Homo sapiens: one gene and its partners. The protein of the gene in region 3 purifies or fractionates together with the protein of the main gene of each other region. This does not show direct contact. Each region holds a gene or a part of one and is shown on either strand. Other genes may lie near its edges.

Region 1 (7,025 bases), on a different chromosome or scaffold from region 3:
CCCCGCCGCTGGCTCCTCTTCAGTTACCAGGTGAGGCAAGAGGGCACTGTGAGGCCTGTCCCCACTGCCAGGGACAGGATTGGATGGCCTTTTCAGACAGCCAAATGATGACATGGTCCTTGAAGGACAGGGTTCTGTGGCTAGACAGGTAGGGATGGCAAATAATGAGCTACTTTTGAGGGGAGCTGCTGGTTCACCCATCATGGCTCCAGTAACCTGTTCATTTATTCATTCAACAAATGTTCTGGCTGGGTGTGGTGGCTCACGCCTGTGATCCCAGCACTTTGGGAGGCTGAGGTGGGTGGATCACGAGGTCAGGAGATTGAGACCATCCTGGCTAACATGGTGAAACCCCGTCTCTACTAAAAATACAAAAAATTAGCGTGGTGGTGGGTGCCTGTAGTCCCTGCTACTTGGGAGGCTGAGGCAGGAGAATGGCGTGAACGCAGGAGACAGAGCTTGCAGTGAGCAGAGATCGCACCATTGCACTCCAGCCTGGGAGACAGAGCGAGACTGCATCTCAAAAAACAAAAAACAAAAAACAAATGTTCCTTGACTTGGCATGTTGGGGTCACAGTCTCCCTTACAGAGATCTCAGTCTCAAGGCAGAGGCAGTTTTATAGATACACAGTTACTGCAGGGGATGTTGAGGACGGTGAGAGCACATCCAAGCCCTGAGGTGAGCAGAGAGTGGTGGGGGCATCCTCCACTGGGAGGGAGGAGCCAGGTTTGGAAAGAGGCATCTCTGGGACCTGTCAGAGGGGAACTGATGACAAGGTTCCTAGAAATCAGCCTGTGGTCCTGTCATAGTTTGGGTTGTTAAAATGTGCTTCATCGTGGGCTAGTCGAGATTTGTGTTAAGCAAATATTTCTGAAGTCTTCTGTGCTTGGCCTTGGGCTGGGTGATGTTGGGGGACCCAGCAGTGCCTGAGATGGACTGGGCCCTACTATTGGGAGGCTCACAGTGGTCAGGGCTGTGATGGAGGGAGCCCAGAGAATTGTGAGCATAGAGGATGTGCCTGACTCTGCCTGGGGGAGAGGGGGCGGGGATGGCTGCCTGGAGGAGGAAGGTTAGTTTGGTTTTTTTTTTTTGTCTTGGTGTCTTGCTCTGTCACCCAGGCTGGAGTGCAGTGGCACGATCTCAGCTCACTGCAGCCTCCACCTCACGGTCAAGCAGTTCTCCTCTCTCAGCTTCCTGAGTAGCTGGGATTACAGCGGTGCGCCACCACACCTGGCTGATTTTTATATTTTTGGTAGAGATGGGGTTTCACCATGTTGGCCAGGGTGGTCTCAGAACTCCTGACCTCAAGTGATCGCCTACCTCGGCCTCCCAAAGTGCTGGGATTACAGGCATGAGCCACCACGCTAAGCCTTTTTTTTTTTTTTTTGAGACAGGGTCTCACTTTGTCACCCATGCTGGGGTGCAGTGGTGTGATCTCGACTCACTGCAGCCTCAGCCTCCTGAGGATCAAGCAATCCTCCTGCTTCAGCCTCCCAATGAACTGGGACAACAAGATTTTGCCACCATGCCTGGTTAAGTTTTGTATTTTTGGTAGAGACAGGGCTTTGTCAGATTGTCCAGGCTGGTGTCAAACTCCTGGGCTCAAGTGATCCTTCTACCTTGGCCTCCCAAAGTGTTGGGATTACAGGTGTGAGCCCCCATGCCTAGCTAAGGAGGGAATATTTTCGTTGAAGTGTGAATGGGAGGCACAGTTTTTTTTTTTTGGAGATGAAGTCTCACTCTGTCGCCCAGGCTGGAGTGTAGTGGCACAATCGCGGCTCACTGCAACCTCTTCCTTCTGGGTTTAAGTGATTCTCCTGCCTCAGCCTCCTGAATAGCTGGGATTACAGGCGCATGCCACTGCGCCCAGGCCCAGAGGGGACTTTTTATACAGAAAACCAGCATGGATGATGGCCAGCACTGAGAGAGTATGGTCCAAGTAGTTGAGTGCAGCTGAGGCCTAGTGTTGGGGAGGCAGTCCTGAATGGTGGGGAACGGGGAGAGGCAGCAGGCAGAGCATGTGCTTCTAGTTCAGGCTGGCTGAAGCTGAGCAGGGGAACAAATGGTCAGGTTCATGTTTTAGATTACAGTTTTCTAAGACTGTACCATATATTCTAGGTTGGGGATGATGAAAGGTGCTTTTAGGTGGAATAAGGACAAGACCTTAAGCTACATTGAATCATTTAGTGAGAATATTTCCTTTTCAGTTGTGTGTCTTATCTTGATTGGGTCATGAGAAAGTTTCATCTTAGTGCTACTGTGTCTTGAACGCCTCTGGGTGGGAGAACAGGCCTTAGGCTTAGAGCCTGCAGCAGGCAGCAGTATCTTGCTGGGTCTTAATAACATTGTTTTGCTTTTATCTTTATAGTTACCTTGTGTTTATGACAAACCTTCAAAAAGTTTTAAATTTTGAAACATTGCATAATATAAAAATGTTTTTATTTAAGAAGGTGAGTAGATTTGAAGAAAATACACATTGAGTATTATCTAAAATGCTTGGGACAAGAAGTGTTTCAGATTTTGGATTTTTTTTTTTTTGATTTTGTAATATTTGCTGTGGAGCGTTCCCTAATCTGAAAATCCAGAATGCTCCAGTGAACATTTACTTTGAGCATGACCTTTTTTTTTTTTTTTTTTTGAGACAGAGTCTTGCTGTGTCGCCTAGGCTGGAGTGCAGTGGTGCGATCTTGGCTCACTGCAACCTGTGCCTCCCAGGTTCAAACAATCCTCCTGCCTCAGCCTCCCAAGTAGTTGGGACTACAGGCGTGCCACCATGCCTGGCTAGGTTTTTTTTTTTTTGTATTTTTAGTAGAGATGGGGTTTCACTATGTTGGCCAGGCTGGTCTTGAACTCCTGACCTCAGGTGATCCGCGCGAGCCACCGCGCCCAGCCTGAGCATGACCTTTGAGCATTATGTCAGTGCTGAAAAAGTTTCAGATTTTGAAGCCTTTCAGATTTCAGTTTTTTGTTTGTTTGTTTTTTTGACAGTGTCTTGGTCCATTGGCCAGGCTGGAGTGCAGTGGTACAATCTCGGCTGAGTGCAACCTTCACCTCCCAGTTTCAAGCGATTCTCCTACCTCAGCCTCCTGAGTAGCTGGGAGTACAGGTGCCCACCACCGTGCTGGGCTAGCTTTTGTATTTTTAGTAAAGACGGGGTTTCACCACATTGGCTAGGCGGGTCTTGTACTCCTGATGTCAGGTGATCCACCCGCTTTGGCCTCCTAAAGTGTTGGGATTACAGGCATGAGCCACTGCACCTGACCAGATTTCAGATTTTTGGATTAGGGATGTTCAACCTGTATTAGGTAAATGGATTGTAGTAATGACATGGAAGAAGTCGTGAAGTTCATGAGTTAAAGACTGAAGTTTGGTATGCATCCATTAATGTTGTTTCTGGTATGGAAAGAGGGATTAGAGGCCAGGAGAGTAGGGAGGAGGCTGGGGTAAGGATCCAGGTGTTAGAGGGCAGTGTCCTGGCCTAGGCTCAGATATATGGGGCTGGGGGAAAAGGATGGGTTGGAGAAATGATGTTTACAGGCAGAAAGGATGAGGATTTGGTGCCTGTCGGTAATTGGAGGAGGCCATCACAGGTCTAGGGGAAGACACTGAGGTCAGTTTGGGACACAGTGAGTATGAAAGGGCTCAGAGGCCATCTAGGGGAGGCATCCAGGATGCTGCTGGTGCATGGAGGTCTTGAGTTCTGGAAAAAAGTGGGACTCTATAGACAGATGAGGACACGTGTCATCTCTAGAGACAGGAACTGAGGTCATGGAAAGTAAAATGGACAGGGAGAGAGGGCATGGAGGGAGAACAAAGTGGCCCTGGACTGAGCCCTGGTAATTGATGTCAGATTTGAAGGGGTTAACAGTAAGAGGAGCTTGAAGAGGAGCTGGTGGAGTTTTGAGAAAAACCAGGAGAGCATGATACGGCAGAAGCCAAGAGAGGAGCATTTCTCCAGGGAGGGCATGGTTGGGGTGCCAGATGCTGCTGGGATGGTAGGGAATACAGAATGGCCACAGAATTAGCAACAGGGGTGGCCAGTGATCTTCGTGAGCAGTGTGGACTAGAAACAGAGATGGGAGTCACTGTCACAGAGATGTCCACCACCGCCAAGGGAGAGGACGAGATGGCCTTGGGGAGTTGTAGAATGGGAAGAGATGGGCCAGGTGCTGTGGCTCACACCTGTAATCCCAGCATTTTCGGAGGCAGAGGCGGATGGATCACCTGAGGTCAAGAGTTCGAGACCAGCCTGGCCAACATGGTGAAGCCACGTGTCTACTAAAAAAATACAAAAATTAGCCAGGTGTGGTGGCGCACACCTGTAATCTCAGCTACTCAGGAGGCTGAGGCAAGAGAATTGCTTGAACCCAGGAGGTGGAGGTTGCAGTGAGCCAAGATTCTGCCATGGCACTCTAGCCTGGGAGACAGAGTGGGACTCTGTCTCAAAAAAAAAAAAAAAAAGAGAGAGAAAGAAATGAGGCCCAAGGACCAAGCTTCATCAAGCTATTATAGTTAAAGACTCGGTGGAAAGTGAGCAAGAGGTCTAGTGCAGGGAGAAGCCCGGGTCAACTCCCAGGGTTGCTTGGGTGGCTGGGGAGATGGCAGTGCTGTCGCTGAGATAGGATGGTAACCAGAGAGGCCAGGCTAGAGTGAAAGGGATATATGCAGAGCAAAGTGGGCTATGATTGGCCAGGCCAATCTGAGGTCAGATTTAGGGTGAGGAACTTGGTTTTTGGATTTTTGGGGTAGCAGAATTCTGGTGCTACAACCCTGCCTGACCCCTGTAGGTAGACGAAGAGCGGCGGAGTGCAGCGGGCAGTGAGAAAGAAGAAGAGCCTGAGGACGAAGAGGAGGAGGAAGAGGAGGAGGAATACGATGAGGAAGAGGAGGAAGAAGATGATGACCGACCCCCCAAGAAACCCCGCCATGGAGGCTTCATTCTGGACGAGGCTGGTATGTCATAGTGCTTGGCCAGTGCCGAGCAGAGGCTGAGCTTCTACTTTTAGTTCCATTTCTTTTTCTTTTTTTGAGGCGGAGTCTCGCTCTGTCGCCCAGGCTGGAGTGCAGTAGCATGAACTTGGCTCACTGCAAGTTCATGCCATTCTCCTGCCTCAGCCTCCTGAATAGCTGGGACTACAGGCGCCCGCCACCACGCCCGGCTAATTTTTTCTATTTTTTAGTGGAGACGGGGTTTCACCTTGTTAGCCAGGGTGGTCTCAATCTCCTGACCTCGTGATCTGCCCGCCTTGGCCTCCCAAAATGCTGGGATTACAGGCGTGAAGGACCAAAGTTCTTAACTTTTCTCGTGCTACGGCCCCTTCTGTAGTCTGGTGAAACCCTGTTCCCTTCTCAGAATCATCTTCTGAAATGCATAAAACAAAATACATAGGATTCCAAAGAGGACAATTTATTGAAGTACAGTTATCAGAATATTTAAAAAGAACATTTTGGTGCATATGTTTCTTTGTTAACATATTTAGGTAATAAGACTTTGTAGGTAGTCTGAGAATCTAATTTTCAAGTAGCAGTGAGTGTAAATGCTGCCTTGAGATACCTATAGCTGTAATGTGCTGTGAAAGAGCCAGTGACACAGCTAACATTGTGTGGTTTGTTGCCATTGTATGTAATTGATGTAAATGCTAAATTTCAATTCCAGGTTACTGAAAATAGGAGCTGTAGTTTTTTCATCGAACACAGACCACCCCAGATGAAAAATCTCTGTTCTACGTGTTAAATCCCTGTTAGTCAAATTGCTAGGTAAAGGTGGTGCATTTTGTTGTTGTCGTTGTTTTTTTTTTTTTTTTTGAGACGGAGTCTCGCTCAGGCTGGAGTGCAGTGGTGCGATGGCTCACTGCAACCTCTCCCTCCTGGGTTCAACTGTTTCTCCTGCCTCAGCCTCCTGAGTAGCTGGGACTACGGGCACGTGCCACCATGCCTGGCTAATTTTTTATATTTTTAGTAGAGACAGGGTTTCACTGTGTTAGGATGGTCTCGAACTCCTGACCTTGTGATCCGCCCGCCCTGGCCTCCCAAAGTGCTGAGATTACGGGCGTGAGCCACCATGCCTGGCCGCACTTTTTTTAAAAAAAGATTTTTTATATTTACGGCCAAATATCAGTTCCTAAAAAGATAAGACTAGTTCATACTTCCATGATGATAATGAATGTGCATGTTTTCCCTTACCTATGGGAAGAGGGGTTACTTAGAACACATCCTGCCTCTGTTTTCCTGGGACTGTTTTACCTGAGAAGAAAAGTAGTTTATTGTCAAAGGGACAGGAGGTGCTCTGGATGTTCTTGGAGAGCAAGAGAATGGATACCATGCTGGGTAAAAGCTGTGGGTTCCCAGGGACACCCATATGTTGGTGGTGGAAGTGTTGGTGGGCACTGCCTGTGTGGAAGGCTGTGTGGCAGTGCCTGTTAGCATTTAACATGCAGGAACCCTTTGACCAAGCAGTTCCTCTTTAGAATTTACTTTATGGTTAAACTTGCATGAGTGCATGAAGACCTGAGAACAAAGATGCTTGTTGTAGTCCTGTTCGCAGTTGCAAAAGTTTGGTGACCTAAATGTTTATTGATGATTAGGGCCTGGTTAAACAAATTATGGGCCATATAGTATATGAGGCATGTGCTGCTGTGGGAGAGCTCTGAGTTAGTAGTAGTTTTGAGAAAAAGAAAGGTACAGAACGGTGTGTTAAAAAAATTACGTGGGGGCTGGGCGTGGTGGCTCATGCTTGTAATCCCAGCACTTTAGGAGGCTGAGGCGGGTGGATCATCTGAGGTTAGGAGTTCGAGACCAGCCTGGCCAAGATGGCGAAACCCTGTCTCTACTAAAAATACAAAAATTAGCTGGGCGTGGTGGCGGGCGCCTGTAATCCCAGCTACTTGGGAGGCTGAGGCAGGAGAATTGCTTGAACCCGGGAGGTGGAGGTTGCAGTGAGCCGAGATTGCTGCACTCTAGCTTGGGTGACAGAGCAAGACTCGGTCTAAACAAAAAAAATTACATGGGGGGAACATAGTGGTGG
Region 2 (7,025 bases), on a different chromosome or scaffold from region 3:
GCAGTTGTTGTAACACAATGGTATCTATGTATCTAAGCATAGAAAAGATACAATAAGGATACAGTATTGTAATCTTATGAGACCACTATTATAAGTGCAGTCCGGAAATGTTGTTAGGTGCATGCCTGTATATTAATGCAGGGTTAATATGAAGGAAATTTGGGGAAAAGATGGGAAATGCTTTGAACTATTTTGGATTTTGATAATCAGTACCAACATAGTTCTTTGACTTACATTTGACTTCACTCATTTTTGAAGTACATGTACTGTGACTGTAACAGATAATTCAGATTTCATTAAGATTTGAATTCAGATATTATTTTGTGATTATAGTATGACCCAAAGCCAGTGTGATTTATAACCAATCGTTTTTGTTAAATTGTGTGTACATCTTGAGTATCAAATATATAATATGATCCTTTTTTTTTTCTTTAGTTACCTAGATTCAAGATGAATAGCGATCAAGTTACACTGGTTGGTCAAGTGTTTGAGTCATATGTTTCGGAATACCATAAGAATGATATTCTTCTAATCTTGAAGGAAAGGGATGAAGATGCTCATTACCCAGTTGTGGTTAATGCCATGACTCTGTTTGAGACCAACATGGAAATCGGGGAATATTTCAACATGTTCCCCAGTGAAGTGCTTACAATTTTTGATAGTGCACTGCGAAGGTCAGCCTTGACAATTCTCCAGTCCCTTTCTCAGCCTGAGGCTGTTTCCATGAAACAGAATCTTCATGCCAGGATATCAGGTAAATCACTTAAGGATTTTACTGCCATGCTATCTTCTAGAAAGATTTTGAGAAAATATACTAGATTTAGAACACTAAGAAATAATTGATATTTATACTTAAAATATATATCTGTTGTGTAGTTGATGGTCACTTCTTTTAGAGCAGAATAATAATTGTGTTCTGTGGGCATGAAGTATGAGTCTTGCCCACTGAGGGGAGGGAGAATGTGTGGAGACAGCAGTATACTTGTGTGTCTATATATTTCCACGTCTGTGTTTAAAAATGTAATTCAAAACAGCTTTATGAGCTTTTGTGGTTACTAACAATAAAGGAACTGGTAATACAAAGAATTAGAAAAGTGATAGATCTTGTCCAGGGATCTTCAGAACTATTTTAGGACATTAGTTATTTTTAAAGATCAGTATTAGCATTGTGCAGTCTACCTACCAGTTACTCGATACATTTTTGTTGAATGCATGACAGATAAAGCATCTTAATTGTTAAGAAACTGCAGTGGAGCAATCAGCAGCTTGGGGTGGCAAAGCTGTATCCTTGAATTCCTGCCTCTAGGAGTCCTTGCCCCTCACTTTCTGTTTTAAAAGTGATTTTTTAGTAGGATGGATAGAGTTGACTTAAGAATTTTAGGGAAAAGTGACACTATAGTGTAACAATTTTTATTTAGTTCATTGCATGGAAGTAATTTCTTGGAAGGCATAGTGTGGCGAAAGAGAAGAATTGGATTTAAAGGCTACACGCCTAACCTGGGAGACTTAGTAAGTTATTTTATCTCACTGAGCCTCAGTTTCTTCACTTGCAAACCACTTCTAGAGTCCCTGTCAACCCCCTAATTAAAACAAAATTTAACTATGCCATTATTGTATAAATTAATAAAGGCTGGTACAAATTAATTCTATTTACATGAAAGAAAGATTTGGTAAAATTAAAAGCAGGTCCAGAATATTGAGGGCAGTCTGTGATTAAGTTGGAGAACATACATACCCTTTTGTTTAAAAATAAATATTTAGCAGCCGGGCGCGGTGGCTCACGCCTGTAATCCCAGCACTTTGGGAGGCCAAGGCGGGCAGATCGCAAGGTCAGGAAATCGAGACCATCCTGGCTAACACGGTGAAACCCCGTCTCTACAAAAAATACAAAAAAAATTAGCCGGGCATGGTGGCGGGCGCCTGTAGTCCCAGCTACTCAGAAGGCTGAGGCAGGAGAATGGTGTGAACCCAGGAGGCGGAGCTTGCAGTGAGCCGAGATCGCGCCATTGCACTCCAGCCTGGGCAACAGAGCGAGACTCCGTCTCAAAAAATAAAATAAAATAAAATAAATAAATAAATAAATAAATATTTACCTTATAGTACATTTGAGAAGAGTGGTGATTTATAATCAATAAGAATGCTTCCTGAATTCCAAAAAGGTTTGGAGTCACTATAGTAGAACTTCTTGGAGGCAAGTTAAGATTCCCAAAAAGACCAAATACTTAATTTAAATGAAAAATATTGTCTGCAGTTACACTTGCTAGGATAAATTATGAAGAGTATTAATCATTATGCATCAGGGTACTAGATAATCTCTTGATGGGATCAAGAAAAAGGGTCCCCCCCATCAGCCTTTTTTAAAAATTAGAGATGGAGTCTCACTCTGTTACCCGGGCTGGTATTAAACTCCCAAGCTCAAGTGATCCTCCTCCTCTGGCCTCCCAAAGTGTTGGGATTATAGATGTGAGCCATCGTGTCTGGCCAATGTTTCCTATTAATAAGTTTGCAAAAGGATTATTAAGGGGGACTTTAGTTAATGTTGTCGAAATGCTATTTAGGAAATAGTTTTAGGCTGCCATTATTTTCAGATACCTTTCCATACTGAGTTTAAGTAATACAATCCTGTCTGCCTAAGTGACCCTATCAGTTTCAGGTGAATTTAGCTTATTTTTTCAATTCTCTGAAAAAGTAAGTTACAAATTATGTTACTACTGAACAAAACATCAGTAGGCATTTGCTAGGATCTTGGGAAACCAAAAAGAATATAGTTTTTCCCTCCTTTAAAAAACTCAGGGCTGTATGGCAGACAGCTATATAGTCAAATATTTACCAGATGGTGTATGCATGCCTACAGATACATGTGTATGTATATATTAAGCATTATTGTATGGGAGCTTAATGGAAACTTTTATGTGTGATGCATGCCTCACTCAAGGTATGTTGTTTTTGTTTTTGAGACAGAGTCTTGCTCTGTTGTCCAGGCTGGAGTCCAGTGATGCAATCTTGTCTCACTGCAACCTCTGCCTCCTGGGTTCAAGCAATCCTCCTGCCTCAGCCTCCCAAGTAGCTGGGATTACAGGCATGTGCCACCATGCCCAGCTAATTTTTGTATTTTTGGTAGAGACAGAGTTTTGCCATGTTGCTCAGGCTGGTCTTGAACTCCTGGCCTCAGGTGATCTGCCCACCTTGGCCTCCCAAAGTGCTGGGATTGCAGGCATGAGCCATGGTGCCCGGCCAGAATTAATGTTTAAATAGCGCTTGCTGTATGCCGAGTAATATTTTCAGAAACTTTACATGTATGAATTCTTTTTTTTTTTTTGAGACAGGGTCTCACTCTGTTGCCCAGGCTGGAATGCAGTTGCACAACAATCATAGCTCACTGCAGTCTCTAACTTCTGGGCTCAAGCGATCCTCCCACCTCAGCCTCCTGGGTAGCTGGGACTACAGGCATGTGCCACCACACTCAGCTATTTAAATTTTTTTTTTTTTTTGTAGAGGTGGGGTCTCTGTGTTGCTCAGGCTGGTCTTGAACTCCTAGCCTCAAGTGATCCTTCTGCTTCAGCCTCCCAAAGTACTGGGATTACAGGTATAAGCTATGAATTCTTCTAGTTTTCTTATTACCCTGTGTGATAGGTTCTGTTGTTATTTTATAGATGAGAAATCTGAGAGGTTACAACTTAGCCAAAGTCACACAGCTAGTAAGTGACAGAGTTGTGACTCAAACCTAAGCATTCTAGCTTGAGTCTGTATTCTTTGTTTTTTTGAGATGGAGTCTCACTCTGTTTCCCAAGCCGGAGTGCACAGGTGCAATCTCGGTTCACTGCAACCTCTGCCTCCCAGGTTCAAGCGATTCTCCTGCCTCAGCCTCCCGAGTAGCTGGGATTACAGGCGTGTGCCACCACACCCGGCTAATTTTTGTATTTTTAGTAGAGACAGGGTTTCACGATGTTGGCCAGCCTGGTTTCGAACTCTTGACCTCAGGTGATCCGCCCACCTCAGCCTCCCCAGTTCTGGGATTACAAGCATGAGCCACCATGCCTGGCCTGAGTCTGTATTCTTAACCACTGCATTGCTTCTTAGTGTGGGCATTTTTGAGGAGCAGAGTGAAGAGGAGAGCACTGAGACAAAGGGAGCACTGTATGTGAAAAAGTGCGCAGAAGTCTTGATAGAACAGGAAGCCAGTCACAAAAGGCCCTATAGTCCAGTCCAGATTTGGTACCTTATTCTTAGATCTGTGGCAAGCCATGGAAGGGTAAAAGCAAAGGAGATTTGGCCTTCATTATGTATTGCTCAGGTTACTCTAGAAGCAATGGGGCATATAGTGTTTTATTCTTCCATTCTAAGATGCTATTTACAGTAAGAAACACTATCAAATTAAAGATAGCTTTCTAGGAATAAAACTACAATTAAATTACACAGCTTTGTTGTTAAACCAGAATTTGTTTTTAAGCCAAAAATAACAAGTGTCTGTCTATACAGTTTATATTATGTAAGACTTCATTGATACATCACTTCATCACATTGAAAATCTAAAGACTTCTCTTTCTTTTCTTGCTTTTTTTTTTTTGAGACAAGAGTTTTGCTCTTGTTGCCCAGTCTGGAGTACAGTGGCACGATCTCGGCTCACTGCAACCTCCGCCTCCCAGGTTCAAGCGATTCTCTTGCCTCACCCTCCCGAGTAGCTGGGATTACAGGCATGCACCACCACACCTGGCTAATTATTTGTATTTTTAGTAGAGATGGGGTTTCTCCATGTTGGTCAGGCTGGTCTCAAACTCCCAACCTCAGGTGATCCACCTGCCTCGGCCTCCCAAAGTGCTGGGATTACAGGCATGAGCCACCACGTCCAGCCAAAAATCCAAAGACTTTTCTAAATTATGCTAGGCAGTCTGTAATCTCATTGGGCATTCTTCAATCATGCATAACGTCAGAGTAACACCACATTTTCTGTAATGTGGTTCTCCTGATCTTAGTTTTTCTTGTTTTAATATACTGACTATATAATTTAAACTGAACAATCAATTTGCATCTGAAGCAGAACTGAGATGAGGGGACTAGAAATGGGAGGCAAAAGTGATATTTCTTTAGGGCCAAGGAAGAGAGAATGAATATTTCAGAAACCCAAAGAATTTTTGTTAAAGCAAATTTTCTTTACCTATTTTTTTTCTATTCTCCTTTTTACCTTCCTTCGTAGAAGTAATTGTTGGTACATTCTGTTTATATTTCGAGAAGCAAATTGGGTTAATTATCATATTTCCCACTCGAGTATCCTTCTGTATATGTACAATAGAGAGTACTTAGTGACTGTTTGCAAACATAAAAATAAAATTATTTAAAAAAATTATTTTAATAACCATGTGACCCAGCAGTTCTACTCCTTAGCTGTATGCCCAAGATAATCGAAAACTGTTCAAACAAGAATTTGCATACAAATGTTTGTAGTTGCATTATTCATAATAGCCAAAAAGTGGAAACAACCTAAATGTCCATCAACTAATAAATGAATAAACAAAATACGGTATATCTAAACAGTGGAATATTATTTAGTCATAAAAAGAGTGAAGTACTGTATATGTTACAACAGGAATGAATCTTGAAAACATTATTCTAAGTAAATAAAGCCAGATTCAAAAGACCACATATTGTATGATTTTGTTCAGATATCCCTGACTTACATTTTTTGACTTTATGAGTATGCGAAAGTGATTCAGTAGAAATTATACTTTGAGCACCCATAAATTATTCTGTTTGTCACTTTTAGTGTAGTATTCAATAAATAACATGAAATAGTCAACACTTAATTATAAAATAGGCCTTGTGTTAGATTATTTTGCCCAACTGTAGGCTAATGTTAGTATTCTGAGTATGTTCAAGGTAGGCTAGGTAGGCTAAGCTATGATGTTCAGTGGGTTAGGTGTACTAAATGCACTTTCAACTTACAACATTTTCAATTTACGATGGGTTTATTGAGATGTAGCCCCATTGTAAGTCACGGAGCATCTACGTGTGAAATTTCCAGAATAGGTAAATTCATGAAGACCAAAAGTAGATCAATGGTTGCCAGCAGCTAGGGTTATGGAAGAATGGGGAGTGACTGCTACTGGGTACAGGGTTTCTTTTTGAAATTATGAAAATATTCTGGAATTAGTGGTGATGGTTATACAATATTGTGAATATACTAATTACCACTGAATTGTCTACTTTATAGGGTAAATTTTATGGCATGTGAATTATATCTTGCTTTTTTTTAAGTATTCATATTTTTTTTAAAGTATTCATGTAGGGAGCAAAATAAATGTAACTGAGAATCTACAAGCAGTGTTAAGATGTATTACAATATATATTCCAGTTAAGGCCAGGTAAACAAGAGAGAGAGATTTCTGGGCTGTTTCTTGTTTTTTAACATTCTAGGATATGAACGAAAAGTGTGTCTCCCTTAATGGCAAAATGTGATGCAATCTGAATTAATGTAAATAATGAATATGTTCATTAGAAAATGGGCAAGTCAGTCTTAGAAGCATAGAAAAAAGAGTCATAGGGGCAAATGTTGGCAATGGCCACCTTGTTTGTCTATACACTCTACAGTGTATGGAGAGAGAATTTCAGCCAACCAACAGAGAAAATTCAAGTCTATCTGTAGACTTGTAACCTGTAACAGTAGGTTAACATAGCCTGGCACCTTAAACATTCAGTTACTCTAATTTGCTTTTTCCCCTCATACTTCCTAAACTACCTTCTGATTGGCTTTCAGAATAGATGTATCAACTAGGAGAAAATATGCTGACCATAGAAACTTAAGGTATAATGATTCCTATTATGGCATTTCTCATGGGCTGGACAATCTGATGGATGGGCCTTCAGTAGGCGTACCTACCTGGTTTTTGAACCGCTAAATACTGAGGACAAGACAGGAGACATGAACCGGCATAACAGTTGCTATTTCAATAAACCTGTTAGGAATTAGCCTTTATAGCCAGCATCTTTCCACCCCAATGGTGCATTGTAGCCAAACATGAGAAAAAGGG
Region 3 (7,025 bases):
CTGGGTGCTGCTGGGAGGTGGGAGGCTGCTGGGAGGGCACCGGATGCCGGGGCCTTGCAACCTGGCAGAGGCTGTGCTGCTCAGGGAAGCAAGGTGGCCCTGGGGTGAGGCGGGGGGCTCAGAGGAAGGGGAGCCCTCAGGAGGAAGTGTTGGGGGCAACTGCCAGAGAGCCCGGCCACTGCCCAGTGCCCATCCGGAAGCTCAGCAGGGAGTGGGCTTGGAAGTGGGCAGGGGCATGGTGGCGCCGGCAGCATCCTATTTTGCAGATGAAGGGCGCCCTAATGGAGATCATCCAGCTCGCCAGCCTCGACTCGGACCCCTGGGTGCTCATGGTCGCCGACATCTTGAAGTCCTTTCCGGACACAGGCTCGCTTAACCTGGAGCTGGAGGAGCAGAATCCCAACGTTCAGGATATTTTGGGAGAACTTAGAGAAAAGGGTATGTTGTGCTGCTTTAATTCATGTTGGGTGGAGGGAAATGGATCTTTCTTGAAAAATTTTTTTCTGAAATGAATTTGATTTTTAGACCTTTACGTTTTTCCGTGTGTCCTGGTCCCTAGAATATTAACTGTATATGCACCATCCTCCCCCGTAAGCTGCTGCCTGGCTTTTGCCATCTTTGAAAACAAACTCCAAACAGCCCACAGGCCCCATCCTCACTGCTGCGGTGTCAGTGGGAGGCTGTGTCACGCCACTCGCCGTCTCTCTCTGGTCGGCTCCGTGAGGGTAGGGGCTCTGCCCATTCAGGTGGTATCTGTAGATCCTAGGTTCTAGGGCCCAGAGCATTCCCTGGCCCAGAGTACATGCTCAGAAATGCATGTTGAAAATATCAACGATTTAGTTGTTTAAATGTGAACTGAAAGTCACTTAGAAAATATTCACAAGGCTGGGCTCCGTGGCTCACTCCTGTAACCCCAGCACTTTGGGAGGCTGAGATGGCCAGATTGCTTGAGCCCAGGAGTTCGAGACCAGCCTGGGAAACATAGCAAGAACCCATTTGTACAAAAAATAAAAATTAGGTGGGCGTGATGGCACATGCCTGTCCTCCCAGGTACTTGGGAGGCTGAGTCAGGAGGATCACTTGAGCCTGGGAGGCCAAGGCTGCAGTGAGCCATGATCGCGCCACTGCACTCCAGCCTGGGTAACAGGGTGAGAATGTATCTCTTAAAAGAAACAACTATTTGTAGATGGATTTGAAGAACATGTCTTGATGGGATGCTTGATGCTTGTGCTTTTCTGAGTTTCTCTCCTGCTTTGGACAATTGGAACTGGCTCCTCAGAGCCCAAACGTTGTGCCCCAGCTCCTTCAAGGGCAGCACCCAGAGAGACAGGGTTGTGGGATGGAGACATCGAGGCTGCACACTCCTGCAGGGGCCCTGCTGGCCACCCCCCTGCAAGTGGCACCTCTCCCCACCTGTGAGGTCACACACACCACACAGATGCCTCTGGAGCAGTGGTCTGGACAGGTCCACCCCACCCCACCCGTTCGTGTCTCAGGAGTGTCCCGCGGGCAGGAAGGCTGAGGCCGGTGAACTCTCATGTGCCTGCCTGTGCTTTTTCTCCAGGTGGGGCACGTAGCCAGTTCAGGTGGGAGGTCGCCTGTCCCTCGTGGGGCAGTTTCTGGGATCTGAACCGTGGGTGAGCACACAGGCTGAGGAAATGGATGTGGGCAGTTTGGATGAGGGCCAGGGTTCCAGGAGAGACCACCAGCCTGGCTACCCTCGGGGACGGGAAGAGAGAAGCCACAGATCGGGGGTCCTTCTTACGTGGGGGTGGGATCTGTTAACATTTCATGTTCTACAAGTGTCTGGAGCCCTCCAGGAATCACTGTATCTATGTCCGCCTGTGGTTCTTGGTGTCCGCGGTGCCAGAGGTTTCCAGTTTACAGCCCTCTCAAGGCATGCCCGCCTCTCAGGCATTCCTGTTCTGCAAATGCTCCTGGGTGTTCTGCTGGAGCCGTGGGGAGTCAGTCTCGAGGACCTCAGGGGACAGCCGAAGCTCCCATGACCTAACCCTAACTGAGGAGGGTGTGGGGCTGGGCAGCCGCCAGCTCCTCTCAGCCGGGAGGTCTGCGGCCTGGGCGCCCCTAACTTCATGTGGTTCTTACCGGCAGTGGGTGAGTGTGAAGCGTCTGCCATGCTGCCACTGGAGTGCCAGTACTTGAACAAAAACGCCCTGACGACCCTCGCGGGACCCCTCACTCCCCCGGTGAAGCATTTTCAGTTAAAGCGGAAACCCAAGAGCGCCACGCTGCGGGCGGAGCTGCTGCAGAAGTGTGAGTGGCCGCGGCCGCCATCGGGCATTGTCTTTGTAGTTTCCAGTCATAGGTTTCTTAGGTTCTAAGGTACCAAGACTGCCCCTTCAAGGTGGCGTTCTGGGCCAGGCATGGTGGCTCACACCTGTTGGGAGGCTGGGGCAGGTGGGTCGTTTGAGCCCAGGAGTTTGAGACCAGCCAAGAAACCCCATCTCTACCAAAAGTACCAAAACATTAGCCGGGCATGGTGGTGCGTGCCTGTGCTCCCAGCTACTCGGAAGGCTGAGGTAGGAGGATCACCTGAGCCCACGAGGTTGAGGCTGCAGTGAGCTGTGATCACACCACTACACTCCAGCCTGGGAGAGAGTGAGACCCTGTCTCAAGAAAAAGAAGATAAAGTTCTGCATAAAGTTTTTTGTTAGAAGTTTATCACTATATTAAACTTTATGTTCTGAAAACATGCTTTAAAAACTTCAGAATTTAGGCTGGGCATGGTGGCTCACACCTGTAAACCCAGCACTTTGGGAGGCTGAGGCCAGCAGATCACCTGAGGTCAGGAGATCGAGACCAGCCTGGCCCACATGGTGAAACCCCGTCTCTACTAAAAATACAAAAATTAGCTGGCTGTGGTGGTGCATGCCTGTAATCCCAGTTGCTTGGGAGGCTGAGGCAAGAGAATCACTTGAACCTGGGAGGCGGAGGTTGCAGTGAGCCAAGATTGCCCCACTGCACTCCAGCCTGGGCAACAAGAGCGAAACAACATCTCAAAAAAAAAAAAAAAACCCACCAACTTCAGAATTTTAGGTGAAGGCATCTCTAATCTCTGTGACCAAATGAACTCTGTGCCAGCTGAGTCACGCTGTTGGGCACGGTGGGTGCCAGGGTGAATGGCTGGAGGGGCACGTTCCTTACTCTCACGTTGCTGCCTTCTGGAGTGGCGGGTGATCTCAATTCCACTTGAAAGATATTTAATCATTTCAGTTAACGTTTTCCCAAAGCACGACAAAGATTTCAATAACATCGTTTTATTTTGAATGGTTATGGAATTAATATTTATAATGTACATCAATACCCCGTTTCCAGAGAATCCAAATAAAAGGCTGACAGCAGCTGTGCATGGATCTTGGCTGGAACGGGCAGCAGCCAGGGCCCAGCGCTGTCCGGGAGGCTCCGTGCAGCCCCGGGCCCACTGGGTAGCCCAGGAAGGACTCTGCTGGCCCCTTGGGCCCCACCCCCTTTGGAGGCCAGCAGTGGCCACAGGGTCTGCTTTGGGCACTCGGTGTCCCCTGACCCTTCAGCCACACTGAACCAAGTCAGGAATATCTCTTCGTTTGTTTCTTCCTCATATTTTTGTATCTAGACCGTGCCTGCTGACCCTCAGCGAGGACGGTGCTACCACTGGGCCAGGGGGAGGCCCGGGTCGATGGAGAGGGCTCATGAGGTCCCTCAGCTCCTCCTCGGCTGCCTCCCCCCTGCCATGGGGTCCTGGGAGGTGCAGCCACAGCCACCCAGCTCCCGAAACTTGCTCACCTGAGTGAGTTTCTGACTCGTTGTAAAGTGCGAGCTGGTGTCAGGCCCGGCTCGGAACAGCTGCTCATTTAGAGAGAATGCAGCGTTCACGGCTCAGGCCGTCGGATGAATCCACTTGACAGAGATGTTTTTACAAGGGCCAAGGGCTCTCGCTCTGAGGATCCCTGACATATGTGACCTCTTCCTTCCAGCCACGGAGACCGCCCAGCAGTTGAAGCGGAGCGCCGGGGTGCCCTTCCACGCCAAGGGCCGGGGGCTGCTGCGGAAGATGGACACCACCAGTAAGGCCCCCACCCTGGTGCCGTGAGCCTTGCTTTTGGGGCAGAGCTAAGGGCTTCACCTGGAGACCCGCTCCCTGTTGGGGAGGTGGTGCCTGTGAATGGTCTTCAGGCAGCAGTGTTGGGAGCCCGTGGGAAAGCGAAGGCACTGGGGCAATTTCACCGGCTTCTCCCCTTGGGGAGCTCCCTGGGAGGATGTGTGGGCACGGAGACAGGAGGGCCGGGATCTGAGGACAGTGCTGGGCACGGAGACAGGAAGGCCGGGATCTGAGGACACCGCTGGGCATGGAGACAGGAAGGCCGGGATCTGAGGACAGTGCTGGCCCCTGCTCCTCTGCTGTTGGCACCGGTGGCTCTCGGCCTTCCCAGCTCGGGCTTTCGGCCCCAAGTGCTGCTCTTGGGTTCCGAGTGTCCCTGGGCGGCTCCGCGGGGAGGACGTGACCGTGCTCAGCTGCCCGTGGGGCTGTGCCCCCCGCACCCCTCCATCTGCCCTTCCTGATTTGTGCTCTCAGGGCTGGGCGTGAGCTTAAGCAGGATGCACCCTGATCACAGGAAGACGGCGTGCCCCTGGGAACCATGGCAGGGCATACTCACCCCAGAGGGTGCTGGATAGTGACCTGGGGGCCAGAGGGCAGGACGGGTGTCGTCCTGTGCTGAGACAGCTGGGTAAACTTGCAGATGGGTGGGGCTGAAAGGGCAGCCTTACAGGCGCTCTCCATGCAGCTCCCAGACCAGCCTGGCTTAGTTTATTTGGGCTCCCATAATCCCACAGTGTTCACATGGGACCTAGTAGAAGGCATCTTGGGTCTGCTGACTATTGTCGCTGTGTGGGGGGCCGTCCCTGGGTCATGTTCCTGCCCACCGCAGCCGAGGTTCCACCTTGCTCTCCTCTACCCCGCCTGGAGCAGACCCTTGTCTTTCCACCCCCACCAGGCATCCCAGGGCCAGGGCTGCACCTGCTGGCCCAGGGAGGGTGGGCCAGCCGTTGAGCAGTGTGTCCAGCCTGGCCCGGTGTGCTGATGGCACCATCCCCCGGGCGTCCTCTCTCCGGGCCTGGCACCATGAGAGCCACGCACGCCTTGGAGGGTGCGTGTGGGCGCTGGTGGGTAACAGCGTAGGTAGGCCTCAGGAGTGTCCTCAGGGGACGGGGAGAAGGCTTGGGAGGGCGGCCCTCAAGCCCAGGCGCCTGGCTTCATGCCCCTGCCGGTGGAGGCACAGGAAGGAGGCAGAGCTCAGCCCCCGCCACACTGGTGAGAGACTCCACCTGGTGAGATCCTGTGGCTGGGCTGGGGTGCCGCTGTCTTTGTTTGGTGTCTTGGCAAAGTGTGAGGTCGTGGCTCCAGGCGTTCCCCTGCTCCTTGAGGTCCGGGATCCTGGGGGTCCTGCCCGCTGCCCGCCAGGGGTTTGGCCCTTCCCCTCTGCGGCGCTAGCCTAGAAGAGGGTGGGACGTTCTGAGCTCGGGGTGGGGGACGTTTGCCGGTCACTGCTGCTGGCGCCCTGACTGTTGCCGTCCTCCAGCCCCACTCAAAGGCATCCCGAAGCAGGCGCCCTTCAGAAGCCCCACGGCGCCCAGCGTCTTCAGCCCCACAGGGAACCGGACCCCCATCCCGCCTTCCAGGACGCTGCTGCGGAAGGAACGAGGTGTGAAGGTAGGCCCGTCCCCCAGCTCCTGTGGCACCCCGGGGCCCGTTGCGCCCTGGTGCCGTCACTAAGGCAGGGCTGTGCTTGTCTTGGCAGCTGCTGGACATCTCTGAGCTGGATATGGTTGGCGCTGGCCGAGAGGCGAAGCGGAGAAGGAAGACTCTCGGTGGGGGTTGGGGCCTGCGTGTCGGCGGCAATGGGGGTCCCTGCGGGCCCTGCCCAGTTGGGGTGGGTTGTGCCCACGCTCGGCGGGCAGGGCTGTGCCCCGTGAGGCTGCTCTCCGTGGGTGGGTGCCTGCTTTTCTCCTCGCTCCTTGGTGGCCTCCCCTGGGAAGCTGTTTGATTCCCTGCCGCTGCCCTGAGCTGACACTGCAGACGCGCCCGGGCACTGGCGAGGACTCCTGTTTTGTCCACAGATGCGGAGGTGGTGGAGAAGCCGGCCAAGGAGGAAACGGTGGTGGAGAACGCCACCCCGGACTACGCAGCCGGCCTGGTGTCCACGCAGGTAGGGCTCGGGGCTGCACCCCATGTCTGGCACCACTGCGGGTGCCCCTTTTGTTCCGATTGTGGCCACTAGTGTGCTCTGTCGGAGAATATATATATGTATGTACATATGTGTGCAGTCTGTATTTATGTATATATACGTATATGTACATGAGAGGCAGTGTGGGCCGTGCCCTGACATGGGCATCTGACTCAGGCTTGGAGCGGGAACCTGCCCCACGCTTGCTGGAGGGGCTGCCAGGGGAGTCCTCCTCAACCCTGTGCCTCAGTGTCCCGTCAGGCAGGGCTGGTGGGACCTAAGCCTTGCACGTGGCCGTGAATGGGTGCAGGACAGGCCTGTGGGGGTGCTGGGTGGTCAGAGGCCTCAGTGTCCCGGAGACCAGGCCCTGCCTGCGGGTGGGAGGCAGCCACGGGGCGCGGCAGGTGCACAGAGGCTGCAGTGGGTCGTCTGAGGCCAGGGCCTGGAGGAGGCCACACTGTGGGGTCACTTCAGGATAATAAGCTCCTTTCTTCCCGCCGCTGCGTGTTCTGTGTTTCTTAACATGAGCATCTTCCTTTATATCAACGCTTCGTGGTAAGAAAAAGCATCGCTCCTTCTGTGCTCAAGATGGGCTGTTTGGGCTCCTCAACCCCTCCCCTCTCCTACACAGGAGCGGCTCAGTCCCCAACTCTGCTGGGGCGCCAGGGGCCAGGGGTCCCGTTGTCTAGCCCAGGGAGCTCGGGAGAGTGGCCCCCGCCTTCCTGCTCTAGCTCGGGGGGCCACAGCCTGTGGCAGTGGAGCTCCGGGTCGGGCCATGTGTTAGCACATGCCGGAAGCATG

The links. Proteins that work in one complex are often made in the same cells at the same time.
Region 1: the proteins of NELFA (region 3) and SUPT5H purify together in Homo sapiens (affinity purification with mass spectrometry; 3 studies listed by BioGRID and IntAct, with this or other methods). This does not show direct contact.
Region 2: the proteins of NELFA (region 3) and MCM9 purify together in Homo sapiens (affinity purification with mass spectrometry; 2 studies listed by BioGRID and IntAct, with this or other methods). This does not show direct contact.

Annotation. Positions count from the first base shown.
Region 1 is NC_000019.10:39,448,568-39,455,592, forward strand, and holds part of SUPT5H (transcription elongation factor SPT5), read left to right. Parts: intron 1-4,788; coding exon 4,789-4,954; intron 4,955-7,025. UniProt on the Homo sapiens protein: Component of the DRB sensitivity-inducing factor complex (DSIF complex), which regulates mRNA processing and transcription elongation by RNA polymerase II.
Region 2 is NC_000006.12:118,925,149-118,932,173, reverse strand, and holds part of MCM9 (DNA helicase MCM9), read left to right. Parts: intron 1-435; 5' UTR 436-450; coding exon 451-754; intron 755-3,495; coding exon of another isoform or gene 3,496-3,586; intron 3,587-7,025. UniProt on the Homo sapiens protein: Component of the MCM8-MCM9 complex, a complex involved in the repair of double-stranded DNA breaks (DBSs) and DNA interstrand cross-links (ICLs) by homologous recombination (HR).
Region 3 is NC_000004.12:1,984,957-1,991,981, reverse strand, and holds part of NELFA (negative elongation factor A), read left to right. Parts: intron 1-266; coding exon 267-438; intron 439-2,112; coding exon 2,113-2,274; intron 2,275-3,974; coding exon 3,975-4,064; intron 4,065-5,504; exon of another isoform or gene 5,505-5,579; coding exon 5,580-5,710; intron 5,711-5,798; coding exon 5,799-5,868; intron 5,869-6,117; coding exon 6,118-6,206; intron 6,207-7,025. UniProt on the Homo sapiens protein: Essential component of the NELF complex, a complex that negatively regulates the elongation of transcription by RNA polymerase II.